Linked DNA regions of Homo sapiens: region 1 is linked to region 2. Evidence: fine-mapped expression QTL. Tissue or cell type: esophagus muscle. Region 2 holds a variant in brackets; the other region holds the start of a gene. All regions are shown on one strand. Distances are from middle to middle.

Region 1 (2,921 bases), 190 kb after region 2:
GAACACCATGCTACACTTACTAAGCCATTTAACCAGGCTAATGCAGTTTATCTAAATGTCAATTTGTATTACAAATTCACTTAAAAATTATTTTCTTTATCTTCAGTTTACCCAAACACTTTACAAGAATACTGAGAAATTGGTATTACTTCTTTAAATTTTTAGCCAATATGTGTGGTTTTGCCTAAAAAAGAGATTGAACCAAAATATCCTCTACAAAACATCCATCTCCTTTCAAATTACTAATATGAGACCAAACAAGATGCCCATAATTGATGCTCAAGATAAAATCCTCAGTGTGTAGAGACAGGAGTTGGTATTGGGAGCTGAAAAGGTGAAGAAAAGAAATAGAGTGTATTGGTCAGTGGTGAATGAGGAGGGGATTTTGGATTGGACCAATAATGGATCTTTTATATAACTAAAATAGCACATCAATACTAAACTAAACTTCAATGAAACATTTCAATTGAGTTGAGAACCTAGTTAGTATACATGTATTATTTTAAAACAAAGAAATGTGGCATGTGATATATGGGATGACTATTCCAGAAAATACTAAATTCGCTGAAATACAAAATGTGCTTGAGACAGAAATAGACAGAGGAATTTCAGAAGTTTGTGCAAAGCAGTAATGCTATAAATAAAACACATGAACAATATTTTGCTAACAATAAATATTCTAGTTTTGAAACTTAATTTTAATTTTGAGACATATATTCTGTTTCAGTTAAAAAAATATACTAGTTATGAAAAGGTTGTATCATGTTATACAAACATCATTATTCATAATGGTCAGAGTCACCTGTTCAAAGTGAGTATATTGTATTAAAAAGGTTGTCATTTTCACTAACTACCTGTTACATATTTAAACCAATTGTCTACTTAAAACTCCAAAATGTTTAAACAGCATAAAATTTCCAGTGCCAAGTAGATACCTACTCAAGACAACACAGACAAGGAGGAGGTAAATAGACTCAGGAGATTTTAAGTTTCTAATGTGCTTTTTCAAACAACTTGCATGCAATTTTGAGTTTGATTAACCACACCTAAGGAAAAAATGCAAATTTTCTGGAAATGATATTGCATACCATTTGGGTGTATTGTACCTCTGATACCAGCCTTATACACATCCTAGAAAAGCACAGATAGACAAAAGAATAAGCACCAAATGAATGCAATAAATACCTTGCAAGAATAAGAAAAGTGTAAAGAAAAAGAGTTCCTTATCTATAGCAACAGTTATATAGAGTCAAAATGGAGAGACAAATCAGAGTCTCTTTTACTCCCTCCCCCAGCCTAGTCTCCCTCTCTGGCTCCGTTTTCCTTTTCTCCCTCCTTTCCCCACTTCGGCCCTCCCATTTCCGTCTCTTTTTCAGCAATATTTACAGAACAATCCTCCACCACACCACTCACCTGTCGTCGTTTTGCCATCCTTGGTCCCCTAGCAGCAAATCTCGAAACCTGTACCTGGGAGGCAGAGGGGGCACTTCGCTCTCCAAATCAACCATCCTTCCTCAAAGAGTGGGAAACATCAAACAACAAATGGAGGAGAGGAGGGAGAAAGAAAGAAAATATTGCGGAGTACAGGGAGAGGACTAACAAGACGCTGTGGCCGAGAGAGGGATGGGAGAAGGGGAAGGGGACAGGGAGGGGGAGGGGGTCCGCTTGGAGCCGGAAGCTAAGGCTTGAAAGGGGGCTGGCTCCTCTTTCCCGAGGGTGTAATGGGGATGATGCAAACCCAACCCAGGAGCAAAAGTCTGGCTCTGACAAGAATCAACGCTGCCAAGGAACCGCCCCCAGGCTCGGCACCGCCTCTGGTCCCCAGGACTAGGGGGAGGCGGGTATAAAAAGTTACTTCGCCGAAAAAGACGCGCGGTGCCTAGAAAGAGGGGAGAGGGGTGGGAGTGAGCGCCGCTTGATGGTGAAGCACTTTCCTTAAAGGCAGTTGCCAGATCCTCCCAGAGGGCAGCCTCCCGGCTACTGTTCCCTCGGGCGGGCTTGCATCCGGCACAGCCCTGAGCTGGCGGGAATCGGGGGCGGTGGGTTTCGGCCCCAGACGCGGCCAACCCGGCTCTCCCCGCAATCTCCCTGTGGAGATGGAGCTGGAGGCCCAGCCAATGAGACTCCCCCTCATTAGCATAGCACAGTGACGGCACGGGGGTGCCTTGGGGACAACCAATGGGGGCGAGCTAATTAGCGGATTGCGGGGCTCCAGACCCTTCTCTGGGAGGAGGGGGGCCAGGGTGCTTGGAGTGTTCCACTATGCCACGAGCTCCCTCGCTTTGATTGCCTTCAGTCCAGGTGGGCGGGATGAAAAAATTGCACGTTTCTGGAAAGGGAATCCCCACTCTCAGCCCCAGGAAAATCCCATTTTTTTCTCACATTCTGAAAGAAGGGAGGTGTTTCCCTGAACTCGGGGAAAAAGAAGGGCCACCTTAGGCCGCTGAAGAGAAGCATTTAGATGACAGGGAAAGCACATGGAAACGCACTGAGGATTTTACAGTGGTGAGTTGCTGTTACTGCTGTCGCTGCTACTAGCAGCGTTGTGGGCTTCCAGGTGGCCTGGCCTCAGCCTTCGGTCCCCTCCTATTAGTGGTTCACACGGAGGAAGAAGTGAGCCCGAGAGAACAGGGTCTGTTTTTCAGTAAGAACCACTGCTTACATGAACCCTGCTACACAAGCTATGGTTCTATTTGCGCTTACCGTTCTTTCCTTCAAAAACTGATTGCATCAGAGTATATACAGACCGAATACCAACCACCTGACAGCCTGGGCCGGAGGATAACCATATGGCTTCTCCTGCCCTTACTTAAGAACCGCTCTGTGTGGAGGAACAAGCTTGTTCCTTGATAAATGGATACGATGTGAGAGACAATAATCAAAGAACATACAGAGGGATTTGGAAATACCTGTGAGGTACA
Region 2 (2,921 bases):
AGATTGTGTCATTCAACTCCAGCCGGGGCAAGAAAAGCAAAACTCAAGTCTCAAGAACAACAACAACAACAACAAAAACAACTCAGGTTTGATGACTTAAACAGAAGACATTTATTTTCTCACAGTTCTGGCAACTGGAATTTCTAGGACAAGGTCCCAGCAGAGTTGGTTTCCTCTGAGGCCTGTGACATTGGCCTCTTTACCTGGTTACTTTATATGCACACCCACCCCTGGTATCTCTGTATATCCTATCATCTTATTCTCCTCTTACAAGGACATCAGCCATATTAGATTAGAGCCCACCCTAATGGCTTCATTTTAACTTAATTACCTATTTAAAAGCCCTATATCCAAATACAGTAAAATTGTGAAGAACTAGGAGTTAGGGCTCCAACAAGTGAAAATAAAAGGGGAGACAAAATGCAATCCAAAACCCCTGCCCAGAAGTGGAAAGCTCTTCTCAATACACTCAACCACATCAGGTAACGCCAGCTTGGTCTCCTCCCCAGAGGTGGCCTTCCTGAAGTTCTCCACTCCTCACAATGGTCTGACTGCTGGCACTGAGAGCCTGCTGTTTAGGGTCCATTCCATTCTCTCCTCTGTGCTGGATCCCCTGAGGCTACTTCTCCTTCACTCACTCCTTGTTTTTGGTAAACACATCTTCCAGCAGCTTCCAGAGAGTTGTGCATTCTTTAAAATCTTTAGTTTATATAAATAACTTCTTTCTACTTTCTTTTTTTTAATTTTTAATTTTTTTTATTTATTTTATTATTATTATACTTTAAGTTTTAGGGTACATGTGCACAATGTGCAGGTTAGTTACATATGTATACATGTGCCATGCTGGTGTGCTGCACCCATTAACTCATCATTTAGCATTAGGTATATCTCCTAATGCTATCCCTCCCCCCTCCCCCCTCCCCCCACCCCACAACAGTCCCCAGAATGTGATGTTCCCCTTCCTGTGTCCATGTGTTCTCATTGCTCAATTCTCACCTATGAGTAAGAACATGCGGTGTTTGGTTTTTTGTCCTTGCGATAGTTTGCTGAGAATGATGGTTTCCAGCTGCATCCATGTCCCTACAAAGGACATGAACTCATCATTCTTTATGGTTGCATAGTATTCCATGGTGTATATGTGCCACATTTTCTTAATCCAGTCTATCATTGTTGGACATTTGGGTTGGTTCCAAGGACATTTGGGTTGGTTCTACTTTCTTACTAGACCAAACTTTTGCCAGGATACAAAATTCTAAGTGAAAAAATATTTCCCTTCAGAATTTTGAAAGCATTGTCCCACTGTCTTCTGCCATTACTGATGAGACATCTGAAGACATTCCAATTTTCCACCCTTAGTTTTGAATATTTTCTTCTTTTTCTCCTATTGTTCCTCTTCCTCATATGCCTTTTCCTTTTTCCTT[T/C]GGCTTCTTCTTTTGTTTCCTTCTCCCTGACCAGCACAGATCTTTTCTAGTCCTTATTGTATAATGAGTGGGCCCTCTCAATTTGACAATTTTTGTGTGGAAAATTTGGGCGTATTATGTCTTTCATAATATTCTACCCTAGTGTTTTATAAAATCCCTTTCTTAAATTCCTACTATATTGATATTGCTTCTCTCTAACTACCATAATTTTCTCAACTTTTTAATTCTTCTTTTACACTATTTGGTTTTATTGTTCATTTTATTATTCTTCATTCTTCAATGTTCTTAGGTTTACCTTCTAGGCTTTTTATTAAATTATTCATTTGTTATGCTAGATTTAATTTCCAGGAGCTCTTTCAGGTTCACTGAGTGTCTTGTTTTGTTTTGTGATCTAGTCTACTATTCTTATTTTATGTATGTACCATATTCTCATGTTACTAGGAATATTTATTAAATATATACTTTAAGATTGATTTCTATTTCCAGAACTATATGGTATTGTTTGATTCCTCTGAGTTTCTCTTTTTGTGTATGGTTTTTGTTTGTTTGTTTGCTTATTCCTTCTTGTTCTTGTTAGAAATGTCCTCAAATCCCTATGTCTGCTGTCTGGTGTCTGAATACAAGCAGGAGTTAAGCACTCAAAAGAGGTTAGGAGTTGAGTGGAGGCAGAGAGCTTTTCTCACATAGATTTCATTTTAGAGTGATCAATGTTTAATATTGCACTGGGGAACACCAGGTTTCATATCTCTGCACACACAGACACACAGACACACACAGGCACACACACTTTTGATTGAATGATATAATGCATTTTATCTTGTGTTGAACCATTTCCCATGAGGAAACTCCTCCAATCTTGTGTCAATGTCAATAGAGATATGGACCAGGCTGTAATGCTTCTCAGAGTCATTTGGGAAAATCATATCACGTTCAGTGATATGATTACTCTTAATTCCCTTAATTTTAGCATGGTGCCTAGACTCTTAACTGTAGCTGGTGTTTCTGAGTAGAGTATCCCTGGATCAAATTCTCCAAATAGCAAACTCTTTTACCAGGATTAGGAAAGTAACCAGCAATGGATATGTACAGGGGTTCAAAGAACCTACTTTTCTTATAGACTTCTAACCAGTATTCATGTATTTAGTCATACATATAACCCTACATTCAGAGACATCTGGTACCTCTATTTTCTGAGACTGTTGAGGTTCGGTTGCAAAACGCAGCTTGCTTCTAATTTGTTTCCTGTCTCAACTTAAATTTTAACTTCCTTCACTGTTGACACTCATCTATCTGCTTTGTAGCTTGCAAAATTATTATTAATATAAAATTAGTATTGTCTCATCTACCAAATCTGTTGTCCCTATAGGTATAAATCTTCTTACTCATTTCTTCCAATTTAGTAGTGTCAGGAAAAAAAAGAGAATGCATTTGATTAACTAAAACCTTCCAAATTCACATTACAAAGGGTACTCTAGAAGGTATTATGTATTTATTTCCTAA

Direction of the effects. Positions count from the first base shown, and alleles are read on the strand shown. Sizes are in standard deviations (SD) of each study's normalised expression.
For the expression in esophagus muscle of the gene that starts at base 1,639 in region 1, T is the high allele of the variant in region 2 and C is the other (small effect, 0.35 SD a copy in GTEx).

What was found. PIP is the estimated chance that this variant, and not a neighbour inherited with it, causes the effect. A credible set is the group of variants that fine-mapping cannot tell apart.
Region 1: KCNT2 starts here. The variant in region 2 is the best candidate, but not a certain one, in a credible set for the expression of KCNT2 in esophagus muscle (GTEx, PIP 0.68).

What each region holds. Positions count from the first base shown.
Region 1 is chr1:196,606,802-196,609,722 of GRCh38, forward strand. It overlaps KCNT2 (potassium sodium-activated channel subfamily T member 2), which reads right to left and starts at 1,639. Exons shown (of 28, transcript NM_198503.5): 1 at 1,414-1,639. The coding sequence starts at 1,508. RefSeq lists an enhancer at 1,974-2,490.
Region 2 is chr1:196,418,416-196,421,336 of GRCh38, forward strand. All of the region lies in intron 12 of KCNT2 (potassium sodium-activated channel subfamily T member 2), which reads right to left. Among named protein-coding and RNA genes, the nearest start is that of MIR4735, 160 kb to the right of the region's middle. The variant T/C (reference allele first, on the strand shown) is at 1,422.